Linked DNA regions of Homo sapiens: region 1 is linked to region 2. The links come from fine-mapping of genetic effects on gene expression. A gene starts in region 2. The other region holds a variant in brackets. All regions are shown on one strand. Distances are between the middles of the regions.

Region 1 (10,362 bases), 970 kb before region 2:
AGATAGACTCGAGTCAGGACTCCATTTATTATCTGGTCTCCTTAGGCCTCCACCGTTTTAAGGGTAAGATGGTGATACTTTGTAAACTCCTGGTATCAGTGTTAGCTTGAACTTCTACACTAAAAGTATAGGAAAAATGTGGGTTTCCCCTGTTTCTCAGTGTAAAGTTACTTGGGTAAATGTCCATAGATTTATTTGAGGAAGACCAGGAGAGTTAATATTGTATATCCTTTCTGTGACACTATAGGATCCTTTCCCAGGTAGATTTGGCTTTTCTTTAAACAATGGTCACTATACCTGAGAAATGGCTCAAGCTTGGAAATTAGGGAATGGAAAGTGATTTATCCATTAGTACAGCTGACATCAGTCTTCTGTGCATCTGCTTTTCATTTAAAAAAATGCAATTATCTATATCAGGCAATGCCCTTGTTGTCTGCCTATGTGCCTTGTTTTAGAAACACCATGGTTTATTAGATATCACCATAGATAACTGCAACTTTGATGCCTGCAAGTAACTCTGTCTACCTTCTCCCTGTGATTAAATGCTGCCATCTGGCCTCTGCTATTTCAGATCCTTCCCCGCTGATACAAGAAAGTCAGTTCCATTACAGCATCTCCTACTATCAATCCCAGCCTACTAGAAACAGTAACAAATGAGCTTTTTGATGATGCCAGTGTCCTCCTCACTAATGCATTCCCTAACAGTTAGTGAAAGGAGTGTCTTCCAGGACTATGCAGGGAACATGGTTATTTGGTGGATTCTTAGGTCTTATGTAACTATCTTGCTCACCTCTCTGAGCCTGCTAATCTCTTTCTCAATACTCTGCCCAGGAATTTTAACCTCAATTAATATGACTCATTGTTTTTTTCCAAGTTTCTGGGGATAAACCAAGCAAAATTTATTAGGATTGACTGTGGATTTCCCTGCTAGGGTGTTGGGTTATGGGAGCATGCCCCCAGATTAAAAAATTCTCCCTTATCCAGCTTATAGTCCACCTTTGCCAGTTCAGCACCTTCAGGATCCACTTCTAGGCATGTTCTTTCAGTTCTTGCCAGCACCTATGAGACAGATCCTGGATCTCCCTCAATGAATAATTCCTTTTCTCCTTTAGCAGATGGAGTACTCTCCCAATCAGATCATGCAAGAATAATAGGAAGGGAGGTGTGGAACCATCTTAAAAGGTGAGTGTAATCTTGCAGAGCATTGATCACAGTTGAGGTTTCTGCACAGTGTTTAGGCAAGAGGAAGCTGATGTTCTGCAGGTAGAACTGGGGTACTTTTTCAGGCTCAGGAGTTTAGGGGCATTGGGAGTTTAATAATTTTGTGTGTATTCCAGGAATTTCCATTCCATCTCAGGATCCCACTCCTTCTCTATCAGGATCCTACCTTTAGCATAAGAAACTTGCCAAAATATTAATCAGCCTTCTTTGCAGGTTTGCTACTCTCACTCTTAAGTTTTGGTTCTGGTCTTCAGGACCACCTTATATGCAGCTACAGATGAAGATATTCTCTTTAAATCCTGCCATGGAGAACTTACAGCTTTCACATTATGTTCGGAATTGGTAATTTGCTGACGTAAACTTGGAATTTTATTTCTTCAGTCCATTGATGGCACTTAATAATGACCACAAATCCCACAGATCTTATAGCTACCATAATCACCATATATCTCAAATACTAGATATTAAACAATCTAGTATGTCTTTTTCCTCTTGTGTTCCATCCCAATTCACCACGCATGAAAGTTTAAGCAATGGTCCTGGGGTTTTGTCACTTTACTTACCACCAACAATGAGGTTCCTGTTGCCTTCTAGCCAGTGAGTCATCCAAACACTGAATCCTATACTGAGTATCAGCTTTCAGCATCATTTCTGCTACTAAGTTTCTTAGGTTGCGTTCTCCAGTAGCAAATTCTGAGTTAAGGGTTTGTGTAAAAGTGATTAATGGAGTATTCTCAAGAAGACCGTAAGGGAGTGGAAAAGTGAGGCAAGAAATAAAAGAAGCCAAGCAAGGGTGAGTCCTGTGATGAAGAACTTTGACTCATTCCTGCAAGGAAGATCAAGAGACAGTGTAGCCACACCTCATAGCTGTCATGATCATGGGCAGTAAGTTGGAGTGTTTATACAACTCAAATGGAGTCATTGATGACAACAGTTGTCACTGCTGGGAAATAATTTCCCAGGCCACTCCTTGTGTGCCGAGGCAAAGAGTATTGGGATCCTGAGGTTAGTCCTCTGACAAAGATATATGGTTAGTGGCTGGTGAAAGTGAAAACATGCTGGTGGACATAGCCAGTGTGAATGAAAATGTAAGGAGGTATACAGGACTGGGGAGGAGAACCAAATGTGTCTTCTAGAGAGATGATAATGGCAGACAATCAATAATTAGAGGTAATGATATTTTTTGATAATGTTGGATAACATATATAATACCATTACCCTACTGCCTCCAAGAGATTAGTCTCCAGAGAAAATTTTTAGTTGTCCTAAAATTACCAGATGATTTGTCTCACTGTTTAAGTCTCACAGCTACTATTTTTTCTTTGTGACAAGATCTCAAACATTCTCACTATTACTTAAACTCTTTTCTTCTTCTTTTTTTGTCCTCCTCCTCCTTTTTTTTTTTTTTTCTTTTTTTCTTTTGAGACAGAGTCTCGCTCTGTTGCCCAGGCTGGATAGAGTGCAGTGGCACAATCTCGGCTCACTGCAAGCTCCGCCTCCCGGGTTCACGCCATTCTCCCACCTCAGCCTCCCAAGTAGTTGGGACTACAGGTGCCTGCCACCACACCTGGCTAATTTTGTTTTTGTATTTTTAGTAGAGACGGGGTTTCACCGTGTTAGCCAGGATGGTCTCGATCTCTTGGCCTTGTGATCTGCCCTCCTTGGCCTGCCAAAGTGTTGGTATTACAGGCGTGAGCCACCGTGCCCGGCCCTCTTCCTTTGTTTTTATTTAATGTATCCATTAAAGAAATTTCGGAAATGACCAATCACTGATCATATTGTGGACATTTTGGTGTTTTTCCTCTGTCTTAGCCCATTTTGTGTTGCTATAACAGAATACCGCAGACTGGGAAGTTTATAAAGAAAAGACATTTATTTTTTACAGTTCTAGAGGCTATGAAGTCCAAGGTTGAGGGGCTCACATCTGGTGAGGGTCTCCTGCTGCTTCATCCCAAGGAAGAAAGTGAAAGGGCAAGAAAATGTGAAAGAGCAAGAGAGCAAGAGAGGGCCAAACTCACTTTTATAACAAGCCCACTCTGTGATAACTAACACACTCCTGAAATAATGATATTCATCCATTCATGAAGGCAGAGCCCTTATGACTTAACCATCTCTTAAAGGTTGGACCTCTCAACACTGTTGCATTGGGGATTAAGTTTCCAACACATGAACTTTGGGGGAAATATTAACATGATAGCAGCCTCCTAATTTTTTTTTGCAGATAAATTTTAAATAATTTTATTTTAAAAAGTATTTTCAAATGGTTATTGTTCTTCCAAAGAAACTTTACTACTATGAATCAATCATTCAACAAAAATATAGTGAGCCCTTTATATGTATTTGACAATGTCCTAGCCACTGTGAGGTTATAGTATTGAACAAGGCAAAAACACTTGACCTCTGCTTGGGGAAGAAAGATAATAAACTAATATATAATGTGTTAAATGGAGATAAATGTGTTAAGCGGAGAAAAATAGACATGCAGGGTGAGGAGAAAAGGAGTACTTTGTGCCTATGTCTCTGTGTGTGTTGTTTTCAGAGAGTGGTCTGGGAAGGCCTCATGATCAGGAGGTAGTGAGAAGAGGTCTGAGGGGAATGTACTATGTGGAGGGAATAGCAAACACTTTGAGATAGGAATATGTTTGATGGGTTCAAAGAACAGCTAGAAATTGGTGTAGGAATTGAAAGTGTTGGCTCAAATGGAGTGAGCCAGGAGGAGAGTTGAAATTACAGCAGTTGTGACCAAAGTGGAGTGTGGGTAGCTGAATAACCAGGGTCTTGGGAGCCATTTTAAAGACTTTGGTTTTTATTCTTGAGATGAAGGTCGTGGGCAAATTTGAAGAAGGGGAGAGTCATGATCTGACTCACATTTTAAAAGACTCAATCTTATTGCTTCATGAAAAAGAGACTCTAGGGAGCAGAGGCAGAAATACAAAGACTAGTCAGGAAGCTGTTGCAATAATCACAAGACCAGGATACTATCAGTGGAATAGTGAAAACAGGTCAGACTCTGGAAAGAAAATATGCACATATTTGCCAGAAATCCTAGTAGGATTTACTAATAAGTGGTATGGATTAGATATGGAGTTTATAATTTGACTGGGAGGAATATTTTATATTTTTATTCATCTCTAATTCATGTTCCCTCTGATGTATCATTTTAACTTTAGGAAAAAATTTCCTTTATAGATAATTCAATTACCGTGAGGAATGCTTAAACTACAGACATTTCCATGGGTTACTGATAGTCATAGTGACAGATTACCATGCAACATAGTTTTAGTCACAGTGAGGGCTACACAAAAAAGTAAGACTTATCCCTGGCTTTGATGAACTATTGGCCCTTTGACAATAAAAAATAGATAAGGCTAAGGTATGTGGTATATGTCATAATATATTTGAAGACATGTCCATATGTAAAACATTTATGGAAAACTCTCTCTCTCTCTGATTTCCCCAGACTCTAAGTACAATACCAATTCAGAAATAAAGAAAAAAATCAATCTGGGTTAATGCCTAGTCACTGAAAGACTTACCAAGGAAGTACTTTAGCTTACAAGGAAACGTAGCATATGAATGGGGAGAGAGATCAGCAAAAGAAGTTAGAAGTAGAAATGGGTAGAGCTTATAATGGGATAGAGATTGGCCTGATGTGAATGAATGAATGAACAATAATCGAATAAGTATGAGTGTGTTTTCTTGAGATAAACATTTGTGTAAATAACACTAGTTTTACAGATATTTCCCCCCGGACTTTCTAAATAACTCAGTGATTCCTAGTAATGTTTTGGTTTGCAGACACTTTGAAAATTTCATAAGTGGTAGAAAATGCACATTTGGGCAAAATTTTATGTATAGTTTAAGGAATTCATGAATATTCTGAAGCTGGGGGTCCATGGAACCCAGACTGTGAACTGTTGAGAGTGTTTCAAAGCACTTTGGTTTTGCCATCAAGCAACAACTATGCTTTAAGATCCCTTTTCTCCTGAAACATTTCAACCAACTTTGCCAGAAACATTACCAAAATTAGAACGTCACAGATCTAGCTGCAAGTCGGAAAATAGATCAACCCTGTGACCTGAGAATAATATCTAGATCTCTAAGTTTTTCCTTTTTTTGTGCAGTAAAGAGAGGAAAAGATGCTTTGGTATTCCTAAACACTTGACTGGATTTCCTGTATAGACTGAGTGTGAATTTAGGAGGTGTTGAGTGCATTGTTATCCATGCATAGATGCAGTTTCCCAGTGAAATATGCTTACCTTAGAGTGGAGATGAGCAAGGACATTTGAGGTAAGATGTGGAAAGAGCCATCAATTAACAGTTTTAAGGAATAAGCTTAAAAATAAAATTCAGCTTTTCTGCGCCATAGAATTCTGCAAGTAATCACCAGAGGCATGAGGGTGTGGACTGTGAGGGCAACAAGTCATGGTTGTTTTTTCTCTATTACATTACATATTACCTATGAGCTATTTGTTTATTTATTTATCTCTTCCAGGGTGATTAAAATGCACCCTTTGTAGAGCTCTCTGGGCACAGGCACAGAATAATAATGGCTTGGTAAGCTGTGTGCTCTGGAAACCCTGCAAGCAAGCAGAGTCAGGTGGAATTGACACAGCTGAACTGGTAGCTGTCACTGAAATGTGGGTTGACCTCCAAGGGTGTAAGTGTCACTGTAGCAAAGCACTTTGTGAGCAGAGTGAGATGAACAGCAATGATCTCTTTCAGAATAGCAATCTTGGGGACAGTCATTTTCTCTCTCTGATTTCTGGGTTGAAAACTGCACTGCGCACTTTAGAGAGATGCCTTGAGTTTTATGTAGTGCATTATATTTTTTCACGGCACCCTGTGTAGGTGTCCAGATGGCAACCAGGTGAAATTGGTCTGAGCCAACACAAAGCAGCAGACTGCATTGATTTGCCTAACATCTTAAAATCAGAATAAAAAGGTATTGCGGCTATGCCTACACGATTTACACTGTCACATGCATAAAATGGTTAAAAAGCTGTGGTCTTGGGAATCAGGCAGGTGT[A/G]TATTCTGTTCTGGGCTTTGCCACCCACTAGTTACTTACTAGTATTGGCTTCTTGAGTATTGACTTCTTTATCTCAAAAATGGATATAAGAATATTCTATTCCTGAGGTTGTTTTGAGGATAAAACAGATAATTTCTATCTGAAGCTCTTAGCAGAATGCCTAATATGTAAGTAAACTCTCAATATGTGTGACTTTTCTTGTCAGTCTGATCTTGAACTTAACCTCACTACTCTGCTTACTGCAAATGCTCTTCCCCCAGGTTTTCTACCTTTCTAGATACCGCTAAGACTGCACAGGACTCTCTTCTCTGTTCTCTGGGCAGTTCTTGCAGCAGCAGCAATTTCATTCCTGCTGCTGTGACTTGTACACAGGTGAGACAAGAAAACCCCTTGTAACTCACTACCAGGGCTTCATGGAGGCAAGTGAATTTCTAGTCTATTCTCTCAAGCTGCAGCTTGGATCAATTTTCCCTGTGAAAATGGCACTGCTAACGTTTTGGCACAAACTTTTTCTATGTATGACTACATTTAGAAAATCACAGTCATGTTGTCTACACTGGCTAGGAACCTGCTTTTTCTAATTTAAAAATTGTGAGCATTTTCCAACGTCATGAAATATTCTTTAAATGTAATTTAAAATGAGTTGCCCTGTTACATTTTTCTAAAAGTGGAGACATCTTTATTTTAAAGTAATATGTGACAAACAGTCCCTCATTTCACTCCTCAAAAATAATTGCTGTTAGGAATTTCATTTGATATCTTTCAAGACATTTCTGCAAGTATAAACCTATAATGAATGCATTCTACATAAACGTAGCTATACCACATATTGTATTCCATAATCTGCTTTATTAACTCAACAAAATATTGTGGGTATCTTTAAAAGCTAAATAGTATTTCGTTATATGGATACATCGTTATTCACTCAATCTCTTATTAGACATTCTCATTTTCAATATTTATTATGCAACATTCGACAAATGTATTTATGTATCATATTTGTTTACTCACACTCTTATTTCTTTCTTTCCTTTTTTTTGTTTTTTTTGAGACAGAGTCTCACTCTGTCGCCCAGGCTGGAGTGCAGTGGCTTGATCTGGGCTCACTGCAAGCTCTGCCTCCTGGGTTCACGCCATTCTCCTGCCTCAGCCTTCCGAGTAGCTGGGACTACAGGCACCTGCCACCACGCCTGGCTAATTTTTTATATTTTTAGTAGAGATGGGGTTTCACCGTGTTGGCCAATATGGTCTTGATCTCCTGACCTCGTGATCCATCCGCCTTGGCTTCCCAAAGGGCTGGGATTACAGGTGTGAGCCACCGTGCCCGGCCACACTCTTATTTCTTTAAGATAAATGATGAGAAATGGAACTGTGGGATCAAATGGTATGCACATTTTAAATGTTGGTACAAATATCCCTCCAGAAATGTTGAATATTTTATATTCCCTTTTAAAATGCATGAGATGTTCCATTTCCCCATACCTTTACCAGAATGTGACTAGTGTGTTTTTTTTTTAATTTCTTGTTAAACTTAAGATATCTGTGTAAGCTGTCTTAAATCCTTATTGGAATTTAACAGTGTATATATCAGAGCCAAATATTTGACAAAATAATACAACAGGTTATGTTGATATTCTTTTAACATAATTTAAAATGAGTTGTCCTGTTATATTTTTCTAAAAGTGGAGACATCTTTATTTTAAGGTAATATTCTTTATGGTCTCCTCTTTCTACAACATCCATGGGAAAATACTTTCTAAGCTCCAGACCACTGACAAAAATATCAAAGTTGTAAACTTTGCTGAAACAATGGCTGAATTTCTCAGTAAATATTTATTCTATTCCTGTCATAGGCAAAAGTTCCATACCAGACAACTTATGAACCTAGCTTCCATGAAAGCATTGTGACTCATTTTAACATTTTGGGCTAAGTGAGAAATTATCTCCATGGGTTAACTTTCAAGGACTTTACTGAAGACACTTGGAAAATTCAAGGGCTCAGTTATTTCTTCCAGACATGCTATGTAAGATGCATTTATTTTGTCTGCTACTATACTTACCTAGAGACCTCATTATCTGGGAATATGCCATGGCTCTGTGGCTTGAAGTCCTGAGGGAAATATTTTCACCCACCATCATATCAGCCTTTCAGTTTTGAAAGCGGAATGTGAATCAGAAATTTATACTCTAGTCTTCAATTTGTAAAAAGATAGTGCATAGATAAAATGAAAAAAGTAAATGTATGAAAAAGCCCTTGCCCTTATCTCCAGCATGCTAAGTGATATGTGAGCCTTTAGCCACTGCTGTAAGGAGTTGACATGTTCAAATTACAGAGAAGTCTGCTCAGTAAAAAGACTATTTTAATAATTCTGGCCATCAGATGAGTACAGGAAGTATATGAAAATGCTCTAAAGGTGCCTGCAGAAGATGTCATTTGATGACATATAAGTGTCAGCACTCAATTAAAGGGTTACCCCAGTCATTACAGAATGTAAGCCAATTGTGACACATGACAGATCCCTGGGGACATGGTAGTTAGAAGTGTTTCCTCCCTTCCTTCCTTCCTCCCTTCTTTCCTTCCTTCTTTCCTTCCTCCATACCTCCCTTTCTTCCTTCCTTCTTTCCCTCCTTCATTCCTTCTTTCCCCCTTCCTTCCTTCCTCCCTTCCTCCTTTTGAGTAAATTCATGTTTGTCAGTTAGGGATATTAAAACATTGTTTTTATCTTTTCACATTTTAAAAGAGCTGTAAAAAGGTTTTCTTTTCAGAACTGAGATTTGCTGAGTCTTTAGTATAATAGCCAAGAAATTTAAAAAGGAGAAAAGAGCCCATTTTGACAATTGTATCAGCATGTTTATATTGTGATTCCGAAGTATAACGTTCATGGCACAGAATGGCATTTATCACATCATGCTTTCCACTGGGTTGTCTTCTTTGGGCAGGAACATTATTTCATTCCTGTGTTTATCTTTCAAGAGCACCTTGCATAGACTAAAACATCAATAAATTATTTTAAGACATATGTCTAATGGTTGAGTGATTTATGGTTTAAAAATAATGTAGCAACTAGAAGACTGTTCTTAGAGAAAGGAGAGGGAAGATGTTTAATGAGAAGAGCTCCTTTAGAGAAAAAGAATCTTGATAGGCATAAGAAGAATGAATAGGGAAATTAAGAAAATATTGAGTGGAAGAGTTAACTGAAAGAAGTTGCAGTAAAAGAGATTAAACTTGATGGTTCTTAGAAGCTTTTTAGGACTTCCAGAGTGAAATTGGAAAAAAAAAAATTTAGTGAGAGTAGAGATTAATGATGATCCTTAGAAGACTAGTGTCTTTTTTTTAATGTAATAGTAGAGATAGTTGATCTCTCACTCATTCCCTTACCTTCAGGGACATTCCAGTATCCAAAGATCTCTCTCGGTGATCTCGGTTCTCCTGAGAGACAGAACTAGGTATAGGTATGTAGATACATAAGAGGAGATTTACTAGGGTAATTAGCTCATGTGATTATGGAAGCTGAGATGTTCCATAACAGTTTGTCTATAAGCTGGAGACCCTGAGATACCAGTAGTATGTCCCAGTCCAAATCCAAAAGCCTCAGAATAAAGGAAACTGATAGTGTAATTCTCAATCCGAGGCTGAAAGCCTGAGACCCGGGGCCTCTGGTTTAAGTCCTGGAGTCCAAAGGCTGGAGTTTCTGAGTTCTAACATCTAAGATGAAGGCTTACATCTTAGATGTAAGATGAAGGAGAAGAAGGGTGTTCTATCTGCAGGAAAGAAGGAAAAGCAAATTTGCCTTTCCTCTGCCTTTGTTCTATTTGTGCCTGCAGCTGATTGGTTGGTGCCCACACATGTTGAGGGTGTTTTTTTTTTTTTTTCCTCAGTCTACCAATTCACATGCCAATCTCCTCTGGAAACACCCTCACAGACATACCCAGAAATGATGCTTTACCAGTTCTCCACATCATTCTTAATCCGGTCAAATTTACACCTAAAATTAACCATTATAATTCCACTCCTTGTCCCTGAGTCCCTGAGAACTTGTGCCTAAGGTGGTTGGGTTACAGCTTGATTTTATACATTTTAGGGAGACAGAAGTTACAGGTAAAACATAAATC
Region 2 (10,362 bases):
ATACATTGCCAACATATGATATCTATTACCTCTAAAACCCAAAAAGATTGGCTCCTTTTTGGGGTTAGAGAGAGTGCAACAGTGCAGCACTGAAATTTTAGTTTAAAGGCAGGATTTTTGTATGTCTAGACCACTGCATTCCAGAAGCTACACTGTACCCCAAATTTTGTGTTTTATTTCTCCTATCACTTGGTACATATATGTATGTTCAGGTTATCTACAGTACCAGTTCTGGTTTTCCAGGGTAATTAGTGGGATATACAATAAGTATGATGAATCTGGATGATGGTTCCAAGATGGGAGGCGCTCAATGATCCTGTAGACTAGATTATGACAGATAACAAAGTAAAATAGTAAGAACCATTCTTGCTATCACTGGATGAAAACAAATTATTTGTAGTATTGTGGGTTCCTGGAATAGTAAATATATGATTAGCTTGAAAGCTTTGTAAAAGATGACAGGAACTGTAATGATATGGGCAAGTAAAGAGACTGTATCAGGAAACTGTCTTCAATTACAGTTAATATCAGTTATGATTATGATAATCCACTTATATCCTTAAAGGTTCATTTGCTTTTTACATACAATAAGTAAACTAAAAAATCAGGGAAGAGACAGGAACCACCAGTCCTCAATATTTTAATTTCTTGATACAAATCGAGATACCTCTAATCTGAAAATCCAAAATCCAAAATGTTCCAAAACCCAAAGGTTTTTGAACACCAACATGACATGATACCACAAATGGGGAATTTTACACCTGACCTCATGTGCCACATCACAGTCAACATGCAGTCAAAACTTATTTATTTTATGCACAAAATTATTAAAATATTATATAAAATTACGTTTGGGCTATGCTTATAATGTATATGTGAAACCTGAATTTTGGGTTTAGACTTAGGTCCTATCTCCAAGATATCTCATTATATACAAGCAAATATTCCCAAATCCATACAAAATTCTGAAATCCAAAACACTTCTAAGTCTATTTTTGGATAAAGGACACTCAACCCATATTGGTATAAATGTCTGAAATCCAGAACAGATGTGGTGTTGCATGTTTCTTATATTATTTTAGTAAAGAATTAAAGGGATTGCACTGTGGCTCTCATATTACAAGAAGCCAGTGTAGATATTCTGCCAGGTTCTAACTATGGTTAATTCACATTTGTGTGTGAAAAGTGAAGGAAATGAACACAGAGTAGAATCAGAAATGTACTCTTAATATCATTTTATGAGACATACTTGAACCAAAGTTTCATTCCTCTTCTGCCAAACCACGGTGACTTTCCACGACCCAAGAGATTCCTAGCAGCCAAGTCCATGAACCACATTCTCTTCAGACTGCTGCCTCTTCTCTGCATGTTTACATGTGTAGGTGGCCACAAGCCACACAGGCACACCTGTGGTAACGTCAGAATGTTCTTCCTCATAGGAATGCTGTTTTTCCTTTAAGGAGCTTTGTGTCTATAAACTGACTCAGGTTTAGAAATTGGGTGAAGAATCCTGATTCTTCATTTTAGTGACTTCAGTCAGGTCACTCTTCTCCAGACCTGGAGGTTTTTTGTTTTGTTTTGAAATTTATTTTCTTTAAATTTTTTATGGCCAGTCTAACAGGACTTTATTAGATTGTTCATCTATTTTAGTCCTAGGGGCATCATGATCACTTGGCCCCCACCAAAGAACCTGCAGTTCAAATCATTTTGATTACAGTGCTGACCGTGCTATTCACACCAGTAGCCATGCTGCTTCTGCCTGTAGCAGTTACTTGCTATGGTGAATGATGGTTGCAAGTAGAGAATCATTGAAGATGAATACAGAAAATACAAAACTGATCTAGTTATACAGAATATAATTTAATACAAGCAATTAGGAATAGGCCTTAATTTCATACCCATGTTGCTGTAACAGAAAAGTCATTAAGTACTGCAGCCACAACTGCTATTTGTGAGGCTCTCACTTTTAATACTGCCTCTGACAACCACAAAGCTAAGTCACTAGAAGACGGAATCTAGATATATCTATTTCACATTTTTACATGCAATGAGCTCTGCCTCCATTCTGCTTCACCCCCGCCTCCAACTTTATTGATGTATAATTGACAAATAAGAATTGTATATATTTACGGTTTACTCTCAGTAAATTTCAAGCAGACAGTACAGTATTTACCATGCTGTACCTTATATCCTTTCAAGCCTTATTCTGTTGCATCTAATTGAGGCAATCTATTTTTCATCTATAAGTTTAGTTGCAAAAGTTGTGAAAATGTACTTTTTGTTTAGAATCCTTTCAATTTAGCAAGGTAGAGTACTTTCTCTAAGAGTTACTTTTCCTCGAAATACTTTTTTTTTTCTTTTTTTTGAGACGGAGTCTCGCTATTTCGCCAGGCAGGAGTGCAGCGGGGAGATCTTGGCTCACTGCAACCTCCGCCTCCAGAGTTCAAGCTATTCTCCTGCCTCAGCCTCCCGAGTAGCTGGGACTACAGGCGTGCACTACCATGCCCAGCTAATTTTTGTATTTTTAGTAGTGACAGATTTTCATCATGTTGGCCAGGATGGTCTTGATCTCTTGACCTCATGATCCGCCCACCGTGGCCTCCCAAGATGCTGGGATTACAGGCGTGAGCCATTGCGCCTGGCTTCTAATTACTATTTATTTGCTTGTGCTTTCATTATAATACCAGTAGCATAAAAAGTTGTCAGCAGGATAATTGGCAAAAAGTGATGAAAAATTATAATAAGTAACTCTTTTGAAGATTTGTGATGTGCTAAGCACTGCTTTTAGTATATTGCATGTATTAAATCTTATGTTTTACATCAACTTTACTGAGTACTCTAATTACCTCATTTTACAGGAAAGTAAACTGAAACATGAAATATTAAAGAAACCATCAAATATGATAGCAGTAAGTGGCAAAACTGGGTGTCTAATATAACCAGTGTGTATTTCCAGAACACATGTCCTGAACCACTGTGATATACCATCTCCAGTTTAATATTTTCTAAGAATGAGGCTCCACCTTGCTGGTCACTGATCATTCTCTTGGCAATCTCTCCACAGCTGTAGCAAGAATTCTACATTCTAAAACATTCTGAAAGTGTGGAGTCTCTTAACCTGTTTTTTTCGGTTCTTTTTTAAGACTTCCTAGACACTCTTCTCTATGATCACTAAATTAACTAATTTCATATATTCTAAATAATCCTGATACCTCACTTTTCTTAATGGAAAACAAATTATTAAAAATAAGGATGTCCAACATGTACTCAAATATATCAAGTATTTATTTATTTATTGACTTATGTATTGTCAGTTGTGGTGACAGAGACAATCATGTTAAGTTTTTGCACGAAGAAGAGGTATAGAACTTTTGTATTTGAAATAACTTTAGAGTTTATTAAAGTTAATTTTGGACATCAAAATATATTTCCTAATACATTGTTTTTCTTTCCATTATAAAAACTTTTATTTCACTATCAGAGTTGTTTTGGGATAATATGTACATTGAATTAAAGACTGAAACAAAAGAGAAAGAAAGGTAAAGATAAACTAAGATAATTAAAAGAAGGCAGATGTCAGATAATCTGATGTAAGAAAGATATTTTCCAAGTTAGAAATTAATTAATTCACTTTCCTGTAAATATATGTAACAGAAGCATTAGGGTCCTGGCGTATGTGTGATTCTCTCAACAGGGAGAATGTGGTCAATCAGTTGACGCTCTAATGGGGACAATGTAACCCTTGCTTGCACATCTGGGTTTCCCAAGTAACTGGTAGTGAATGGAGTTAGAAAGACAATATATATAGCATTGTATATAAGCACAAATTTGCAAGAATTTACCTTATGCCCTGTGGAGATAACCATGACACAAGTCTGACTTCTGTAAGCCCCAAATATTTCATTTGTGAAATTAGACCACCGGTTGCTAGGACTCCTTAAAGATGCTCTGAAATTCTGCTAGTTGACAATATTATTCTATGTAGTTGAAAGGATGGATGGTTCAATCCACATATTTTGGTATTTATGTTTCTTAAAAATAACAGAATCAAAGAATAATTTAATTTAATTCATATAGGTGACCTCTACTACTGAAATATTTCTGATATCATACACTTCCAATCTGAGGGGCTTCGAACACAGTAGATCTTGTATAAAATGCGGCATTCAGCACTTCACTATCTCAAAAGCGGACCCTTACTAATTCTACTAATTGTTTTAAACTTTAGCTTCAATATTATCAGCTCAGATTGGAACTGTCTGAGAAACTTAATGAACAGAGATTTTTATATTTTATTTATATTTTATATTTTATTTGATATTTCTTCCAAAGACAGAGGACTATATTAATGTTTGATACTTTTCTATTTAGATGCAACTGTGAAACCTGGACTCCTTTTTTAGGTTTAACATCAAATATAGAAAATATATTTATTTTATGAGACTGTCCTATGATATTCTTTCACTAACCAAATAGTTCTCAATTTTATTAATAGAAATGAATGAATTTGGCTAGGTGCGGTGGCTCACGCCTGTAATCCCAGCACTTTGGGAGGCCGAGGTGGGCGGATCACAAAGTCAGGAGATCGAAACCATCCTGGCTAACACAATGAAACTCCGGGTCTACTAAAAATACAAAAAATTAGCCGGGTGTGGTGTCGGGCACCTGTAGTCCCGGCAAGAGAATGGCATGAACCTGGGAGGCGGAGCTTGCAGTGAGCCGAGATCTCGCCACTGCACTCCAGCCTGGGTGACTGAGCGAGACTCTGTCTCAAAAAAAGAGAAATGAGTGAATTTAAGGCCAAACACTATGGGTCACATCTGTGATCTCAGCACTTTGGGAGGCTGAGGTGGAAGGATCACTTGAGCCTAAGAATTGGAGACCAGCCTGGACAACATATTGAGACCCTGTCTCTACAAAAAAATAAAATAGAAATGAATCAGTTTATTGCCATTGCTTTTAAAGAGGCTATTAAACCAAACAAACATTTAATAATCACTATAATAAGAAATAGTTATGAGTAATTAAACTGTCTAGATATGATTGAATATATAATATAACCAAAACATTTTATGCATACTCTAGAACATATAATATTGAATAACAATTTTTGAATCATGAGCCCTTGTGTCAATATTCTAACTGGCATACTTGTTTGCAAAAGGTAAAAAGCAAGGTCTAACCATCCTGGCATATTGCACTAACGTATAATAAAAATTCCCTTCCTAAATTCTTTTAAGCTATTATAGGATATCTTTCTGTGTCACAAAAACGCCCTTTCTCTATCTTGTGACATATGACTCAACTCTAAAAATTAAACTCCTTTAAGTTGCCAACCTTTTTGAACTCCATTTTCACTGAACACTATTAATTCAATTAATCATATCCTATTTCTATTGACTTATTGCACCTTGTCATTCCTGGAGAAGTGATGGAACTGAAACTGACATTCTTTTATTTCCTTTTATATTTTAAAACTGCAATAATTGTGGCATAGTTATGTCCCATTTCCTACTTCATGCATTTAAGAGAACTTCATTTAAAAACAGAGATAACTAGATTCATTCTGAGCAATGCCGATCACAGTATAAATGAATCCCTTTTGAATTTTTAGGTTAAGGAAGATTTGCAATTATCAGCTCATTAAGTATAATTTGAAAATTTTATTGGATAAATATGCTATTTTATCTGGTATATATTTTTAACTTGGTTACAGAGTATTCTGGATACCTTTTACTGTCATTTGTTGAATTAAAATTCTTAACTAAATCTCCTGCTTCAGAAAAATTAACTTTGGCTTTTCTCCTCTTTTTAAATTGCAGAGAATCCAATTGAATGCTATTATAGTTTGGATATTTGACCCTCCAACCAGCATGTTGAAATTTGATCCACAATGTTGGAGGTGGGGCCTAATTGGAGGTGTTTGGATCATGGTGGTGGATACTTCATGAATGGCTTGCTACTGTCCTCCTGGAAATTAGTAAGTTCTCACCTATTTTATCAACAATAGCTAGTTGCTAGCCCCTCACCTTCACTTCTCTCTTGCTTTCTGTCTCTTGCATGCAATCTGTGACCATTTGCTCCCTTTGCTTTCCACCATGAGTGGAAGCAGCCTGAGTCTCTCACTAGAAGCAGATACCGGTTCCATGCTTCTTGTGAAGCCTGCAGAACTGTGAGCAAAATAAACCTCTTTTCCTTATAAATTACCCAGCCTCAGGTATTCCTTGATAGCAATACAAATGGACTAAGATAATTACCTATTTCAAAACGTGCTTAGCTATGCATATATTTAGGCAAAACTTCCAATTAATTATCAATATTCATTTGCATGATTTATTTTTAGTGTTTTCCTTCTTATTTTACAAATAAGCTTACAAAGATGGGACTCTAGCTTTCAAAAGTGATATTAATGAAAATGTATTTAAAAATTCTGGCATCTCACGAATATTAGAAAAATTTTTTAAGGAATCTACTTTCAAATTTTTTATTCTAATGTGATCAAACAATTTTAAATACACAAAATTGAATAATGGTGATTCTCTAGGGTTTTGTTTTTTTTTTTCACTAAAAGCTTCAACATATTTTTGCCACTAACTTTTTATGGAGAGGTGCTTTGAGCTAGTCAGTATAACTGACTTGGTTTCCTTCCTCTCTTTTTTACATACTGGTCTTTAAATGTCTTTATTAATAAGCAACTATCTAGCCAAATATGAATATGATAAAGGATATAAGTATTGGTAAATAATTTTTTAAAAATGGCTTGTCAACTTGAAAAAAACCAAGTATTGCAGATTAAAGTAGATCAAAACAAAACATTTTAAACAATTAATTGTGACTTACAAGCAAAAACTCAAACAATGTGCTATTACAATTGTGGACTGAACTTTGTTTTCATATACTCAGTTAGGTGGATACATTACATTCTTAGTTACTTGGGTAGATTTTAAATCCCTTGACCAGAATCTTAAAAATTCTCACTCTACTTTTTATTTGTTGCTCTGCCATAACTCAGTTCTATAGAAGATGATGCAAAGCAGTTTTTTTTTCAATAAAGAATGAAGTGACTCCGTGTACAGGCAAAACCTATAAGTAGTCGTCAAAGGAAGAGCTTTTAATATGATGGTAAACCATGAACAGTTTGTTTTAAATAAACTTGTTTTGCAATAATTTAGTTTCACATAAATGTTACAAAATTAGTACAGAAGTTTCCTGTATACCACTCACCCATTTTCTCTTATTATAAACATCTTGCCTCAATATGTTATATTTATTCCAACCAATAATATAACATTGATACATTGTTATTAACTAAAGCTTTTACATATTTAGATTTTCTTAGTTTTTACTCAGTGTTCTTTCTCTGTTTCAGAGTTCCATGCAGGATATATGACATTTAGTTCTCATGACCCCTTAGGCTTCTGTAGCCTGTGACAGTTTCTCAAACTTGCCTTGTTTCCGATAACCTTGACCGTTGGAGGAGCATTGACCAGCTGTTTTGTAGAACCCTGCTCAATGTGGGTTTATCTGATTTTTTTTAATGGTTAGACTTTGGTGACATTTTTAGGGGGAAGGAGGAAGATTACAGAGGCAAAGTGCTATTCTCATCACATCATATTAAGAATACATGGTATGAACATGTCATTAATATTAACTATCATCACATGGCCGAGGTAATAGTTCTCATTTTTCTTCACTGTAACACTACTTTTTTCCTATTTTCATACTATAATCTTTGAAAATAAGTCATTGAGCAGCCCACACTTAAGCATCACTTCTTGAGAAGGTATTATCTACATAAATTATTTGGATTATTCTGATGTTATATTTATCTATTCTGTTCTATTCATGTATTAAATCAGTTGCTTATATAAAGATGAATATTTATTTTAAACTTTTGGTTTTAATTCAGTTCTCTTTTTTGTTTCTGAAACTCTTCTAGCTTTGGCCACTGGAAGCTCTTCCAGTTGGCTCCTGTATCCCTTGACACACCCTTTCCTGTCTTTTTTTTTTTTGTCTTTTTGTTTCGTTAGTCCTTATTTTCTGGTACTACTTCAGGCCCAATTTCTACATTACTTGTCTCAGTTCTAGAATTAACCATGGCCGCAAGGAGCCCTGGGTCCTTTTACTGCAACATGTTATCAGAAGGGCTCAATGTTACTGGTATGAACTGACATTGAGGGAACAAAAGAGTCAATGACTTAGAATTTCATAGATGATCTAACTCAGTTGTCCCCGTTGAAACCTCTGACCCAGGTTTAGGGATAGTATTAAATGGTTAGCTTCTGTGCCACTATCTATGTATGTGACTGTAAGGATGTCAATATAACTTTTAGAACCCAATTTCTTCATCTGTAAAATAATGAGCAAAATTAATAAATGGGGACTCTCCAAGAAGACAAAACAACCTTATCTTTAGTGTTTGGTGATTTATAGAATTTGGTCTTTTCCATCATGTAAATGTCCCTAAGATGGCTGATTCGCAACTACTGATCAAAAAGCTTGTAAAAATTCCTTAAAATTGAATTATTAGTTCTCTTGAGCTGATAATGAGTCTTGCAATACAAGACCCAGCCAACAATACAAGCGATAGACATGCAAATACTCAAAAATACATAGATGCAATTCACATAAAAACAAACCACATATGCACATGCATCATTTTTAACAATGAGAAAGGTAGTTTTAGTCTTTAACAACAAATGAAGTGTGCCACCGTGGGCTCAGGGAAGGGGCACCTTTGCCAATGCCTCTCTGTTCCCTTGCAGGCATTTTCCCACCCTTCTACATCATGGTATTTAAACCCCAGAGGGGATATGTAAATGTCCACATTCCTCAGAACAACATTAGTGCTCCCCAAGTGTGGCTAGGCTTCCAGTGGCCCAGGAGTTGCAGAGTTTTCTCCTGGATGAAAATTTGGATCCTGGTTCCCACTGCAGGCTTTTGTTTTTCAGGCACTCATCATGAGGTAGATGTCGGGAAGTTGTTTCAGAGCATCAGGGCCACCAGTGTTGCCTGCAAAAAATCCTGGTGGAGCACACTGCTGTCCTTTTTGATATCTGAAATGGAGAGGCTGGTGGAGGTCCATGGGGCATTTGTTGACTAGCTCCTTTTGAAAAACAAAATTTTGAGTAATGCAAACACTACTGACTTTATGTCCTCTTTCACCAGGTCAAGGGCCATTGACTTCCAGACTTTCTTGATGGAGTTCCACTGCAGCTCTGGCTTAATTTTCTTCTTCTATGGCCAGGAATCCTCCTAGATGATGAGATAGATGCCATTTTCTGTGCTCAGCAGCTCTTACCTGGACTTCTCTTCCAGATGCAGTAGGTATACAGACTTGTGGAATTTTATCTTTATCTATTCAGATAGATAATTTTCTAGATATAGATCTATCTAGATATAATAGAGATTATATATATGGAAAATGACTAACCAAGTTAATAATCAGAGAAATGAAAGCATACCTGATAATAGGCCATTTCATGACAATTCTGGCAAAATTAATTTTTTTCTTAATTTTTATTTCCACTATTAGTAGAAACAAATAAGCCCTCACATGCTGTCATAAACTTAGTGGGAGAATAAATTGGCATGGCATTTTTAATGAAATATGAGGCAAAATCAGTCAAGAGTCTTGCAGTTCTTCATATACTTAAATCAGTAATATCATGCATTGACGTTATCCTAAATTAAATATCAATAAGATACTATTAATATGAAGAGTGCAGGCATAGAAATCAATATCTTAGATTTGAATCTCAACTCCTGAACCTCAGTTTTTTCGTCTGTAAAACAGTTATTGATAATAATACTGACTCATAGGATTATTCTTAGTATCACATAGTAAACTATCAAAAATATTTGTTTAAAAAGTACAATTACTATAGTACAATTTATAATAAAATTTCTAAATATAAAGGAAGAAATTTATATGATAAAATATTATGCAGACAATGAAAGCTGTTTTGAACATGACATTTATTTCTTTCCTTATACATCTTTCCATTTTCAAACTTTTCTACTGGGATCATGTATTATTTTAGAAGCATGTATTTACAGATAATTGTGCCATTCATTGTAAATACAATGAAATGATAGAATTAGCCCACATAATGTGCCTTCCACCTCTTAACACCATATTTCAACTCCATTTACTTAAAAATGTGATTAGCATATAAAATGAATGCACACTTCCTAATGTTATTATACGTGTCTTGTATGATCTTTTTTTTTTTTTTCTCTCAAGCACCATTTAACTTTGTATAATTTTTTGGTTTCAATGTTTCCCTTTCCCTAATGACAAACATTTTTTTCTGTGTTCCTCCCACCTCCAGCATTGTTGGTTTCTTAACCTTTATGACC

Alleles and levels. Positions count from the first base shown, and alleles are read on the strand shown. Sizes are in standard deviations (SD) of each study's normalised expression.
For the expression in pancreas of the gene that starts at base 5,829 in region 2, allele G in region 1 goes with a higher level than allele A (small effect, 0.30 SD a copy in GTEx).

The links. PIP is the estimated chance that this variant, and not a neighbour inherited with it, causes the effect. A credible set is the group of variants that fine-mapping cannot tell apart.
Region 1: its variant is the best candidate, but not a certain one, in a credible set for the expression of LINC02477 in pancreas (GTEx, PIP 0.78).

The regions. Positions count from the first base shown.
Region 1 is chr4:159,547,322-159,557,683 of GRCh38, forward strand. The region is part of intron 1 of LOC107986324 (a long non-coding RNA gene); the gene reads left to right. Among named protein-coding and RNA genes, the nearest start is that of LINC02233, 230 kb to the right of the region's middle. The variant A/G (reference allele first, on the strand shown) is at 6,251.
Region 2 is chr4:160,512,991-160,523,352 of GRCh38, forward strand. It overlaps LINC02477 (long intergenic non-protein coding RNA 2477), which reads left to right and starts at 5,829. Exons shown (of 7, transcript XR_001741914.1): 1 at 5,829-5,980; 2 at 9,169-9,327.